Linked DNA regions of Homo sapiens. The protein of the gene in region 3 purifies or fractionates together with the protein of the main gene of each other region. This does not show direct contact. Each region holds a gene or a part of one and is shown on either strand. Other genes may lie near its edges.

Region 1 (3,500 bases), on a different chromosome or scaffold from region 3:
TTGGGATGGACAACAGAAAAAAACAAAAAGCCAGTCACAGGGACCCAGAGAGAAGGAAGGGAGATGTGGGCAGGAGACAGACACAGAGCATGTGTATGGGCAAGGAAGACGCAGGGAGACTATGTGTGAGCTTCAGAACTGCAGAGACAAAACGCCACGGAGGAAGGAGAGGAATCACAGTGAGAGATCGCAGGGCCAGGGCCAGGGCAGGAAACCCAGGCCCGGACAGAGGAGCGTGTCACAGATAGAGACAAAGATTCCTGGAGAGAGACACACACACCGACTCAGGAGGAGGGAGGTGAGAGCGAGGGTGCCCCGGGGAAGCAAGGAGGGACACAAGGACAGGGAGGAGGCCTGGGGCCCCTGGGCTGCTGCCGCCCGCCTGGACCCCGTGGGGCTCACTCAGAGGGCCTGTGCCCGCTGCCCCCCCCCCGCGGTGGGCCGGGCCAGCCCGGGCGCTCAGGGGGCCGGGGGCTCCTTGGCCCCATACAGCTCGGCCAGGGTGCGGAAGAGCGGACCCCAGTCGTCCAGCGGCTCCGCGGGGCCGGGGGCGCCGCCGGCTTCGCTGCCGGAGCCCAGGGAGCTGAGGGAGCCGCAAGAGGAGCCGCGGCCCTCGTAGCCGTACACCTGCACCGAGTCGTACGGGGGTACGCCGGGGTCCTCGTCCGCCTCGCGGAGCCGCAGCGCCAGGAGCTGCGCCACGTCGGCGGGGCCGGGGGGTCTGGGCTGGCGCGACACCCGGGCCCGGGGCAACACGTCTCGGCGCGCGGGAGGGCCGGGCGCCGGGGGGGCCGCCCCGTCCGGGTTCTGCAAGGCCGTGATGTCGAAGGCCTCGGTGTCCTCCTCGCCGCCGCCCTCGTCGTCGTAGGTGATGATGTTCTCTCGGACGTCCTCCTCCTCCAGTACCATCAGTGCTTCTTGCTTCTGCCGCCGCAGGGCCACGAAGAGCACCACCAGGGCTGCGCGAGAGGCGCGCACACAGGCCCTGAGCCAGCAGGGCCGGGAGCGGGCGGCCTGTCTCCATGTGAAAGGCTGACCCATCAGGTGACAGAAGCCCTGTGCTTAGGGGCTGACATCTAGCAAACCTTGCATTGAATCCTGACTTCAGCCCTTACTCGCTATGTGACCATGGGAAGTTGCTAGACTTCTCTGAAGCCTCAATTTGCCCCTTAGATTACTTATGTGGAGAATAGGGAAAATATATTTACTTCTAAGGGTTGTTGACATAATAAAATGAAATATCACAAGTGACGTGCCCAGCACTATACTTGGCACAGAGTAGGGGCTCAGTAAACCATTGTTATGGCTTGTCATTGTCATTATGGATTGGCAGGTCACGGATAGAGGCCAGAGCTTTTCTCTTGGATGCATCAGGTGGTGGGAAAATCCAGGTATGAGGGTCGTTCAAGCCCTAAGGTGGATTTCCCTGTGTCCAGAGGCCTGGTTCTTCTCCACACCCCTGCAGGCCCAGATCGCACAGCTATGTACCACTGTGGCCTGACTCACCAAGCAGGGCACCCACACAGGTGATGATGGCAAGCAGGGCGCCGGTGCTGAGCCCAGCAGCTGAGAGGTGAGCCTCAGGCCAGCAGGATGCCACAGAGCCGTCAGGCTGGCAGCGGCACACACTAACAGTCACTGTGGCAGTGCTGCTCAGCGCCGGCTGCCCCCAGTCCCACAGTTCTATGGGAACCAAGTAGGGGGCATGGCGGGGTGGAGCAGGGCGGGAGGGCAGCAGCAGGCTGGCGGAGCCATCTGTGGGAGAGGGAAGGTGTTGAGGTATCTTCTGGGACACCTTCCAGGTAGGGTTGGTCCAGCCCATAGAGCCAGCTTCCCATAGAGCCAGCCCCCCATAGAGCCAGCCCATAGGTCCAGCCCATAGAGCCAGCTTCCCATAGAGCCAGCCCATAGGTCCAGCCCATAGAGCCAGCTTCCCATGGGGAAGGTTTACAAAGAGCCAACGAATGAGTACAAGTCCACACCCATCTTCTGTTGGGTAGAAGGCCGAGGCAGGTGGGGCAGGGGTCAGGCAGGCTGGGCTAGGGGTGGAGGAGGAGGAGAAGGGGACAGAGGCAGGTATGGACATGGCTGTAGGAGGCCACCTACCTCGGTTGTCCTGGACAGTAAAGTTGGCATCAGGGCCCAGAGGACCTTGAAAGGAGACATGGCTACTGTTGCCAACTTCATCTCTGTCCAGGGCCCGGATGACCTGAATCAGCTGGGAGGAAGAAGAGAGAGGCCTTGTATGGAGTGGGCTGCTGGAGGCCTGGACGTCCCAACCCCTCTGCCTCAGTTGCTCACCTGGCCAGGAGCTGCAGAGTCACACACAAAAGTATCGTAGGGCTCAGCCAGCTGGGGAGCATTGTCATTCTCATCCAGGGTCTGGATGGCCACTTGCACGCGCGAGGCCTGTGCAGAACTGTCTGAAGGCAGAACACCAAAACATACACGCCACACACACACCACACAGTTTACACGTAACATATGTGGTGCATGGGCATGGATGCCACATGAAGCATATAGCATGCACAAGAAACACATGAAATATGCATGTAATGTACAGGTAGAAAACAATGTTGCAGAATGAATGGAACAATACCAAGTGCATACAATATTCATGTAGTACCCAAGATATGTGCGATACACAATAGACATTCAACAGGAATGCCGCACCCATGATACACATATACAATAACCCACATGCAGGGCACATGCAGCATAAATGAAAGACAGAGGGAAGGTGCATACGAGTTGCATGCAGACAACAGCCATGAATATACAAAACACATTCATACCATATATCCAATGTACACTCAACATTTAAAACAAATGCAATGTACATGAAGCAAATGTTTGATATGCATAGTGAATGTGGTGCCACATCCCCCGACAACACCCAGTGCCCATAGAATGCATTTTCATGCATAGAGGCCATGCACAGCACCAGTGGGGTGGACAGACACATATACACACCACACACACACACACACACACACACACACACACACACACATCCCATCAGAGGTCTGGGAGGCTGTAGTACAGCAGTGAGCATCACTTATCTTGGGTAGAAAGGTGCTGCATGATCTACAGGGTGCAGAGCCCAGGCCAGCCTGGGTACCACAGCCAGACACAGGCCCCATCTTTACCCATCCCTTCATCAGGTGACTCCCTACCACTACCCTACCTTGCTTCTCACTGCCAGTGCCTTCCAAGAGAGAATGCAAAGTGTGTCTCCCTGTCACCTCTCTTAGGCCAGGTCTCCCAATTCCTTTAGTCTTTCCCCTAGGCAGAGGGATAGCTGACTAGCCTTGGGGAAAGGGGCTGAGGATGCAGCATGGGCAGGGGAGGCTGAGTGGATCGCCTGGCTAAAAGGATTGGGATACCCCAGAGACAGGATGGGGAGGAGGTCTACTTCTTCCCTGCGGTAAGGGCCCAGCACTGCTAGGTGATGTCTGGGTGCGGGTAGGAGCAGGATTTGGCAGGAGAATGAGAAGACA
Region 2 (3,078 bases), on a different chromosome or scaffold from region 3:
GCTGGGAAGATGAACTAAGCCAGGCCCCACAGTGGCGAGGAGCCTGGGACCGGGCTGGCCTAACCTGTGCAGGGCACTCACCTGGCCCACGGGCTCATCTTCAGAGCCAGCCCACGGCTGATGCAGAAGCCAGCGCCGCCCGTGGCAAACCAGAAGTGGACAGGACGCTGGGAGAAGGGAGAAGGTGTCCTGAGACCCAGGCGCTGCTGCCCCTCACGGTCCCACCCCCACTCCGGGTGTGCGCTCCGCGTGGGCGTGGGGGACTGGGAGGGGCAGGCACTCACCACCTTGTTCTCGCTGACCCGCTCCATGGCCTGGATGGGCCTGTCCAGGCTGGGCTTGCCGACGTAGACGTCCCGCGTGTGCGGGTAGCTGGCCAGCAGCCGCAGCAGGGCCCGCAGGTTGACGTAGTTGTCATCGTCCACGTGGCAGAACCACCTGAGGACAAGGCAGGGCCATCGGGGGAGGGCATGCCGGGGCGGGCGCTGCCAGGCTCGGGCAGGGAGATGGGGGTCCCCCGGGGCCACACTCACTTCCTGCCGGACTCGATGAAGCGGTCATACTCCACGGCCATCTTGCAGGACAGCGCCTGGCGGCTGTGGGCGGCCGAGCAGTTTGTGATGACCACGTTGCCTGTGGACAGGGGAGCGGCTGTGAGTAGGTCTGAGCCGGCTCCCAGAGAGGGGCCTGGCCTGGGGGACGCCACAGGGCCCAGGGGCTCGAGAAAAGCCCCCTAGTTCAAGCTGGGCCCGGCGGCCGTAGCCTCCCCCACCCTAGCTCGGGGCTTGGGCCTGTGGACCCTCCCGCAGCCCAGCCCCTTCCAGGGCGGCCCCGCCCCCGCCCATTCAGGCAGCTTTTTCCCAGCACCCGCCACCTGTTGCCGCTGCCTGGGCTCAAAGGGACCCGGGGGGCTGAATGGGCTTCATTTGCATGAGAATTGGGGGGCCCGAGTGGTGGGGCGGGGCATGGAGCAAACCCCATGAGTAAACTGCCCTCCCTGTCCTGCCCTTGGTGACCTCTCGGCCCAGAGGGGCAGGGAGACTGGAGGGGGAGCGTTCGGCTCTGGATGGAGGCCTGGGCCCCCTCCCGCCCCAAGTCCAGGGCTCACCCGTGTGCCTGGCCAGGGCCTCATCTTCCCCGTCAGTGAAGATGAACGTCTGGAAGGAGAAAATCGGCCTTCAGCAGGCAGCCCTTCATCCCCACCCCAGGGCCATCTGTGGGGGCCGGACGGGGCGCCCTGGAGTTGCTGCAGCTGCAGCTGCGTCACACTGACACCCACCCTTCTCCGGGCCTTGGTTTCCCCACTCGTGCTGAGAAGGGCTCAAGTGCCCCATCTCAGTGCCATCTGGGCCAGAGCTCACGCATTCACTCGCCCTGGGGGTGGGGGATGGGGGCCTCACTCCCCAACCTCGACAGCTGCACCCAAGGTCGTCCAGGCGCGGTGAGGCACGAGCCAGGTGGTGCGCCTCGCCCGCCCGCCAGGTAACCGGTTCCCGACCCGCCCCGTGCACCTGGCAGGGCACACACCCTTATTGACACAGCACCCAGCCTGCCACTTGGAGGCTGCTGGAAAGGCGGGGGACAGGCGGGGTGGCGGGAGGGACAGGCGGAGGAGGTCGGCTGTGGGAAGCCAAGTCTCAATCACTCGGGGTTGGGGACAAAGGCCTTCGCTGGGCGGCTGCCAAGCCCTGGCGGACAAAGGGCCTGGAGGGAGGATGAATCACCAGGCATTGTCCGCCAGCTTTGTCCTGGGCTGGCGGGAGAGGGGCGCCGGGCCGGCCTTAACTCGGCCGAGTTAAGCAGAGTGGCCGCGCCGCCCATTACCATACAGCTGGCCTGGTTAACCGGGCCAGGCTGGGCATGAGGTCCCGCGCGTAGGGTGCAGCCACCAGCACTGCAGCCACCCCACAGCTGCCCTTTGGGCCAGCACCCCTGTCCTGGGTGACCTGCAGGACAAGCTACCCACTCTGAGCCAAAGCAGCCCTGAAGTTCTGCAAAGTTGCCAACGGTCAGCAGGGTTGTGGCAGGAAACCTCAGGTGTCCCCAGCCCCCAGGTCAGGGGCCCCCAGTACCCATGCAGCCCAGCACCCCTCCCACTGCTCAGGCAAGGAAACCCAGGCTTGCCCAAGGCCACAGCCCACCTGTGCCAGCACGCGGCCGCCCCCTGCCAGGAGCGCTCTGCGGAAGAGGAGGGGGCCGCCAGGGCGGGGCCAGGAGTCGCCGGCGCCCGCCTGGGCCTGCCGGCACACGGGGAGGAATGTTCCTTCCTCTGCCCGGCCCGCCCAGCGCGTGCCGCCCGGCGCACCCTGGCATGGCTGAGTGCAAAACCCAGGGTGTACGGGCAATGCTCTGACCAAGGGACAACCCCCTGATGCCCACCCAGCCTCAGTTTCCTTCCCTGTACACACAGGTCCCGCAGAGGCCCTGGAACACCTTGGTAGTCTCAGATCCTTATCCAGCCTGACCCAGCCCTGGGCACATGCTCACTAGGGTGAGGCCCAGAGCTAAGGGGGTGGCAGGCTGGGTCTCCGCCTCTCCATGCATGCACCCCTCCTGCAGCACCCATAGACACCCCAGGGCAGCCACACGCACAGACTCGCACCCAGCCCCTTGGCCTCCCCAGAATCTCAGCCCAGGAATGCCGTGGGAGGCGGAGGGCCAGCCCCTGCAGACGCTCCACTGCGCCGCTGGGTTAAAAGGAAAATGCTTTCTTAATGAGATCAAGGGAGGCCTGTTCTCCCGAGATTTGGTGGTGCCCTAAAAACCCAGCCCAAGGCTACGGAGATTAAAGTCACCTTTGTTCAGCTCAGGGAGCAGGGAGGCCTCTAGAACAGCATCTGAGAAGGCGGGGCTATGGGGTGCGGGGGTGCCGGTCGAACTGTCTCCCGACACCTGAGCCACCAGGAGGGGAGGAAAAAGGCGCTGCTGGGCTATAGGCCTCACCTGCCGCTCAGAGCCTCAGTCTCGTCTTCAGTAAAATGGGCATAACAGAGCTCCCCTGGGCAGAGAACAAAGTGCAAAGACAGATTCTCTCCCTTCCTCTCCCTGACAGCCCTCGGAGGTGGGTGCCATTACCAG
Region 3 (3,170 bases):
CTACACGTGTTCTTTTCGCTGGATTATAATCTCGATGAGGGCAGGGGCCTGTGTCTATTATTTTCATATTCTTATGCCTGCAACCTAGCATAATGCCTGGCATATGGAATATGATTTGTAAATTACTCTCAGATGAATGGATAAGTTAAAAACGGCTCTTACCATGTACGAGGCATTGTGCTAGAGACATTAGTTATGGATGATAAACCAATGTTAGAATCGTCATTTGCCAATGGGCATTTACATCCAGGCACAGGCAGATACAAAATGAGTACAAGAGTATATTTTACCATGTGAATAGGGTAGATATGAGGAAGTTTGCTTGCTAGGTCAGGGGAGGGACCTGCACTGAGGGAATTTATAAGTAAAAGGAAAAGATGAAAAACAAGTCTGATTTCCTCACCCTGTAAAATGAGATGTGCAAACAAGGCAATTTGCTATGATTATAGGATTCCCTTCACAGTTTTTCCTAGAGCCTGCTCTACAATGTCACAACCCCTCTAGATTTTTTGCCTTAGGTATGTCAGGACACATAAAATGTCTAGGTGGTAGAAATAAGCATCCTGTTTGCAGGGCTCATGAGGAGGGCAAGTGGTAGATTCTCTGCAGTTCTGGAACCCATTGTGAACCCCAAGCCATGGAGACTCTAGTCTACTGGCTGAGCATGCTCAGCCCATAAAGTGCCCAAATTATGAGAACAACTTGCCCTTGAAACAAACAAACACAACAATAAGATAAAATAACTGACAAATCGTCTTTATTAAATAAGCAAATAGTCTACACAGATACAGTCACTTGTCTGTTGCACACGAGTGCTTCCCCTTCTCTTGGGAAAGATCACTCTATGTGACAAGGTGCAAGCTAAGCAGCAGCCCATTTGAATGCCCTGTAATAACATAAAAATGACCGGCAAGATACAGATTCACGCTCAAGTTCCCTTGAGTGTGACTCGAGTCACAGCACAGGCAGGAGAAAACGAACATTTCAATTCACAGAGACTTAGGTGAAGAATTATTAGCTTCATTTAAAGTGCCCATATTGTGCCTTCTACATATCTCTTTCAACAATTAAGCCAGCTGTTACTCTTCAAAGTGTGTGTCACTTTCTTTGCATTTGGGTCAAACTCCAACTGTGAAGATCCAGTAAAGAAATAAAAGAACCCTGCAAATACAGACAAGGGAAATAGTAAGATATTTTTCCAAATAAAGACATTTGACAATATACAAAACTCAGAATCATAGAGAACTAAAAATAGAAAGTGTTTATAGAGCTTTACTTTATGTCAGGGACTATGCCAAGCTTGTTACATGAATTTATTTTCATTTATTTCTGCAACAACCCTATGAGGTTGTATGTCTAACTCCATTTACAGATTGAGCAAGTTGAGGTTGAGACAGATTTCGATGCTTCCTCAAGGTTACTCAGCAAGGAAGAATGGAGACAGCACTCGGTGCCAGCTCTGTCTGAAAACACAGCCAGATTCCAGGTTACAGGGTTATTCTGCTTCCGATCAGATAAATTCTCCACTTGCTTGGAAACTCTCATCACCTATTTCTTTCTTCCCCAAAAATCCTCCTCCCTTTTCCCTGCATTGCAGCCTAGGAAGCACAGCAACTATTTCAAAACACCAGGGGACCCTTTAGTGCTCTGCAAACATGGTGATCAGGTTACCTTTCAATAAAGATCATCAGCCTCCACTTCCTTACCTTGAGTAGAAAACAAAATCTTTTTTTTTTTTTAAACTTTGGGCACATGGAAAGGTAAGTATTTGCAAATGACTGGCATGGGCAATGACTGACAACTCAGGAAAGACAGACAAAAAATCTCCCTGGGAATTAGTAGCAGCAATAAGATAGGGTGGAGGAGAAGGCCAGCTAACCAACATTAAACCTGGCCACACCACTTGATGGGATTTTTATGCTAACATGGTAATCTGAAAGTCGAGCTTGACTCCACATGTTAGCTCGAGATGTAAGTGACACTGGAGCACTTTGATTTTATATGCATGTATAAGATAAAGTAGCGAGATTTGTGTAATTATCTTTATGGTTCCAAACAAGTTATTTTGTGAAGTAGTTCTATAATGAGTACAAATGTAGGCGAATCAAAATTTTGAGAAGGGAACTGGCCCTAAGAAACACTTGTTATTAAAAAGTTTCAATGCTCCTCTTCCCTCTGATATCATAAAATGTTTCAAGTGCTCTATGGCCAACACAGTAAGTATCCTCTTACCAAATTCTTCAAAAACAGCATCAATCTTTGAGTCAATCCCTGGAAAGTCTTCAGCTATTTGCTTGGGAAAGCCTGGCTCCATGGAATTTCTCTTCTCATCAAATCTGTACCAAGTAAAAGAAACAGCTCAGCATTGCATAGAGGCCATGTTACCGAACATCTTAGATCATGTTAGGTTTAATGTGGAATTTTACTAAACTTTATAAATACTGCAAATAAATGCCAAGCATATTTGGGACTATAGAAATATGTGACTTTAATGGTACTGTAAAGAGTTCTGAAAGCCATATCTCCATCCGGAACAGGGGCCGCATCCTGCTGTATGTAGCACATGCTGTTTGTCATCATATTTCTTAAGCCTGGACAGAAAGAACCTTAATCATCTTTCTGTCACAAAGACATGAAAGTGTGAACATATATATAAAGTGAATTGAATCAACATCTAAAATGCAATTTTAATTCCCTACCACAATTGGCCCATATATGCCTGCTGTCCCCTCCCCTGCACATCTAAATCTTCTCTGGTGGCCTCCTGGGAAAAGGGATTAGGATAAGAAGCAAAGCACAGTAAGTGTGTTTTTAGCCCATTGGCTGGATATCAGATGGTCGGCCTCGATGTCTCAAAGTCTGGCCAAATGACCCAGGAATCAACCTGTCTGTGAGTGTTGGGTTGTATCCATAAACTGGACTGCTATTGATCATCATCTCTTAAATGAGCCATCATTATCAGGTAGAGGTGACAAGTGGGTGAGGTTAGAGGTAGCCCTTGAAAATCATATAGTAGTGTTAGGAAGACAAAACAAACACACAATGAGACAGTGACAAACACACAGTGAGACAGTGAGCCAAACTAAAAGACAATGGGAAGGGAACGCTAAATTGCGGTCTGGGTTCTCAGAACATTTTCCCAATGGGTCTAAAGTCCACGAGGGAAAGCT
Region 4 (3,500 bases), on a different chromosome or scaffold from region 3:
TACAAATGATTTGGAGGTATGTTAACTCACGGTTCAGTGGAGAGGATAAGATACTCATTCTCTGCAAATAAGGAATTGAGGCTCAGCCAGGTAACATGACTTACTTGCCTCTCAAGGTCAAAGAGCTGGATGTAGCAGAATCAGGAATAAAACTGAGGTCTTTTAAATGTAACAAGGATCTGTTAGCCGAATGCACCATGTTGTTTTCTAATATTTCCTGCTACTTTCTAATCAATGTGCCTTAAACCATACCAACAATACAAAAGTCCATCATTAGCGGTTCTTTCTTTCATTCCAGGCCAGTTCACACCTTTCCCCATTTCCACCTACATCGTTATCTGAAAATCCTTCCTTCTGACATAAAGTCAATGATCATATGAATAAGTGATCACTATTTTTTGTAAAATAGTTCAAAATATGCCAGTACTTAAATCTTTTAAGTCATTTATTTGCCTTGTGAATAATCCTGTGATTGACAAAATAGTGTTTTGAAGCATTCTTGTCTCATAAGGATAGTGGTGGCATTTGAAAGTTGAAGAATGCTAAGAACAGTATCCCCAGTTCTAATACAACAGGCTTTATTCTGTTCTACAATTTTAATTCCATAAAATTGATAAAGGCAGTCACTCTATTCATTTTACAGAACATGAAGTATTTATTTTATGGACTCAAGTTGGAGTAACCAAAGAGGTTTGCACACAGTGACAGGATGCAGTGTTTGGGGCCCAGTTCTATTAGGCATTATAAATGCCCAAGATGAGAGTTGTAACCATGCAGAGTAGTGTTTTCTGAATATTTGGAAAGATTCTTCTGGTCTAGTACAAGATGGTAGAAGAGAGGGTTAGCCATCCTGGAGTATGAACTCGGCCTAAAACATTTCCAGTTTAGTTGATTTGTTGGAAGGACTTAACGTGGCAGGTGGAGAGGTCATCAGCAGCATCCCAGCAACTCCAAGTACAGGGAAGAAAGAAACGTACCAAACACACAAGGTGGATGGGGTATGGTGCTTGTTCTCATAACAGTAATAGCCAGCCTTCTAGAGCAGTGGCTCCTCAGGCAGCCATTCATACTTTATGTGTAGCATGCTTTGCAACAGTGAAGCTCCACATTTCCCACACCTCCATTTTCCTTACACTGTCTTTGCCCATTCTGCTTTTCCTCTTTCGCAATTCTTTTTGTGCTTTCCTTTTCTCTTTTGCCTCTGAATCCAAGATTTGGTGAGTTGGGTAGAGAAAGAGAGCTTCTGCATTTGTATAATTTCGCTTTGACTATAGCTTAAATGATTATAGAATTAGTATGTAAGATGACTTCTCCTTATACACCTATTATATCTAATGTTTATAATTCAGAAATATCTTGTGCCTTGAAGAATGGAATAAAATTGGCTGAGCTTGGATTCCTGTTGTGAAATGCAGGTGTGGAAATTCAAAACCATTGTTTACTCAGGCATCCAGTCTTAATCAAGTTAGAACATTTTACTTAAAATTAATATGATTAGGCCAGCCATGGTAGCTCAAACCTATAATCCCAGTGCTTTAGAATGCTGAAGCAGGAGGATCACTTGAGGTTGGGAATTTGAGACCAGCCTGGGCAATACAGCAAGACCCCGTGTTGCCCAGGCTGGTCTCAAATTAAAAAAAAGAAAAATTAAAAAATTAGTTGGGTTTGGTGGCCAGCGCCTGTAGTCCCAGCTACTCAGGAGGCCGAGGTGGGAGGATCACTTAAGCCCAGGAGGTCAAGGCTGCAGTGAGCTGTGATGTTACCACCGCACTCTAGCCTCGGCAACAGAGGGAGACCTGTCTTAAAAAAAAAAAAAAAAAAAATTAACATGATTAGCTTTGTTCACTAGGTGACTTTGTTTTGTTTTTTTAAACTAGGAAACATGTTCAACCAAATGGCAAAGTGGGTGAAACAGGACAATGAAACAGGAATTTATTATGAGACATGGAATGTAAAAGCCAGCCCAGAAAAGGGGGCAGAGACATGGTTTGATTCCTACGACTGTTCCAAATTTGTGTTAAGGACCTTTAACAAGTTGGCTGAATTTGGAGCAGAGTTCAAGAACATAGAAACCAACTATACAAGAATATTTCTTTACAGTGGAGAACCTACTTATCTGGGAAATGAAACATCTGTTTTTGGGCCAACAGGAAACAAGACTCTTGGTTTAGCCATAAAAAGATTTTATTACCCCTTCAAACCACATTTGCCAACTAAAGAATTTCTGTTGAGTCTCTTGCAAATTTTTGATGCAGTGATTGTGCACAAACAGTTCTATTTGTTTTATAATTTTGAATATTGGTTTTTACCTATGAAATTCCCTTTTATTAAAATAACATATGAAGAAATCCCTTTACCTATCAGAAACAAAACACTCTCTGGTTTATAAAACACCTTAATTCTACTGCTCTTTTTTCTCCAATCACCAGCATCTGTTTTTCAGGGGGTGATTTTACTTTTGTGAATTCCTTAGCCTTTCTTCCTTGGTGCATAAAGTTAAAATGCACATCAGCAGAATTGCTGCATATTAACATCTCAGGACTCTTCTCTTGTAAAGAAGCTGAAATTCGTACTATATTGGCCAAAGTGAGCGAGTTAGGTGATCTTGGTTTCAATTTCCGAGCCTTTGTTAATATGGAGAATTATGGTTCATATCAGTTATGTAGGACCTTTGGACCCAGGGTCCTACAGATAGATATGGTGTGCCCAGATTTTAAAAATACCTTCAAAAATAAAAAATACATTCAGTGACATTTTCATGGTGGGAGCTCTTCTTTCTGATATGGCAGTTACACTTTTTCACTTAAGTGCTTTAGTTTAGACTAACTTTACAACTTCTATAACTTTTGGAACCAAGTTTAGTATAGTCTGATTACATTCCATTCACCTAACTTTAGACATTCGTTTAGACACCATAACTGGAGTGATTGTGCTTCTAGATGTGGCAAATCCAGTGTTAACACATATTTCTGGCTGAGATTTTGGAACTAGCTAGTAACTGGCTTGTGTTCTTTAAGCATACTAACATCACTAAATCTTAGGATTTAGGATTGCTGTAAAGATGTAAGTTGTGTATGTTTGGCAGGTCACATTGAATGGCAGTGATAATGATTAATCAAAGAACAAATGTCATCCTTGATCTTGCCTAATGTAGTTTATGTGCCAAACTTTCCAGGGTTTTGTAGTCACCTAGATTTTAAGCTGATAGCATAGTGCTTCAGCGGTTCTTCTAACCGGGGTATGCAGGAACATGGCTGCAGACACGTTTGGGTAAACAGGCACCTTCTGACTTCTTCATTGTTTCCTGTAGTTCTCCCTCTTCCCACAAAGCTGTCAGCGCAGTGGAAGAGGTTGCACTTCTCCGAGAGAGGACAGGTTTCTGTTAAGATCACCAAGTAGCTGTGCTTTAATTAGAGCCAGACAAGCTTTCAAGGTCCTTTAAGTATTTGATGATCAACTGAACACGTTTCTATTCAAGGAGAAAACACCATTCAGTAAGA

The links.
Region 1: the proteins of MMP3 (region 3) and CDH24 purify together in Homo sapiens (co-immunoprecipitation; one large-scale study listed by IntAct). This does not show direct contact.
Region 2: the proteins of MMP3 (region 3) and LFNG purify together in Homo sapiens (co-immunoprecipitation; one large-scale study listed by IntAct). This does not show direct contact.
Region 4: the proteins of MMP3 (region 3) and CLN5 purify together in Homo sapiens (affinity purification with mass spectrometry, with the first as the bait; one large-scale study listed by BioGRID). This does not show direct contact.

What each region holds. Positions count from the first base shown.
Region 1 is NC_000014.9:23,047,521-23,051,020, forward strand, and holds part of CDH24 (cadherin-24), read right to left. Parts: intron 2,424-3,500; coding exon 2,302-2,423; intron 2,219-2,301; coding exon 2,107-2,218; intron 1,756-2,106; coding exon 1,507-1,755; intron 960-1,506; coding exon 460-959; 3' UTR 1-459. UniProt on the Homo sapiens protein: Cadherins are calcium-dependent cell adhesion proteins. They preferentially interact with themselves in a homophilic manner in connecting cells; cadherins may thus contribute to the sorting of heterogeneous cell types.
Region 2 is NC_000007.14:2,522,774-2,525,851, reverse strand, and holds part of LFNG (beta-1,3-N-acetylglucosaminyltransferase lunatic fringe), read right to left. Parts: intron 1,158-3,078; coding exon 1,109-1,157; intron 634-1,108; coding exon 534-633; intron 439-533; coding exon 285-438; intron 168-284; coding exon 82-167; intron 1-81. UniProt on the Homo sapiens protein: Glycosyltransferase that initiates the elongation of O-linked fucose residues attached to EGF-like repeats in the extracellular domain of Notch molecules.
Region 3 is NC_000011.10:102,835,066-102,838,235, forward strand, and holds the end of MMP3 (stromelysin-1 preproprotein), read right to left. Parts: intron 2,337-3,170; coding exon 2,233-2,336; intron 1,702-2,232; exon of another isoform or gene 1,373-1,701; intron 1,162-1,372; coding exon 1,061-1,161; 3' UTR 736-1,060; downstream 1-735. UniProt on the Homo sapiens protein: Metalloproteinase with a rather broad substrate specificity that can degrade fibronectin, laminin, gelatins of type I, III, IV, and V; collagens III, IV, X, and IX, and cartilage proteoglycans.
Region 4 is NC_000013.11:76,998,581-77,002,080, forward strand, and holds part of CLN5 (bis(monoacylglycero)phosphate synthase CLN5), read left to right. Parts: intron 1-1,877; coding exon 1,878-2,389; 3' UTR 2,390-3,500. UniProt on the Homo sapiens protein: Exhibits palmitoyl protein thioesterase (S-depalmitoylation) activity in vitro and most likely plays a role in protein S-depalmitoylation.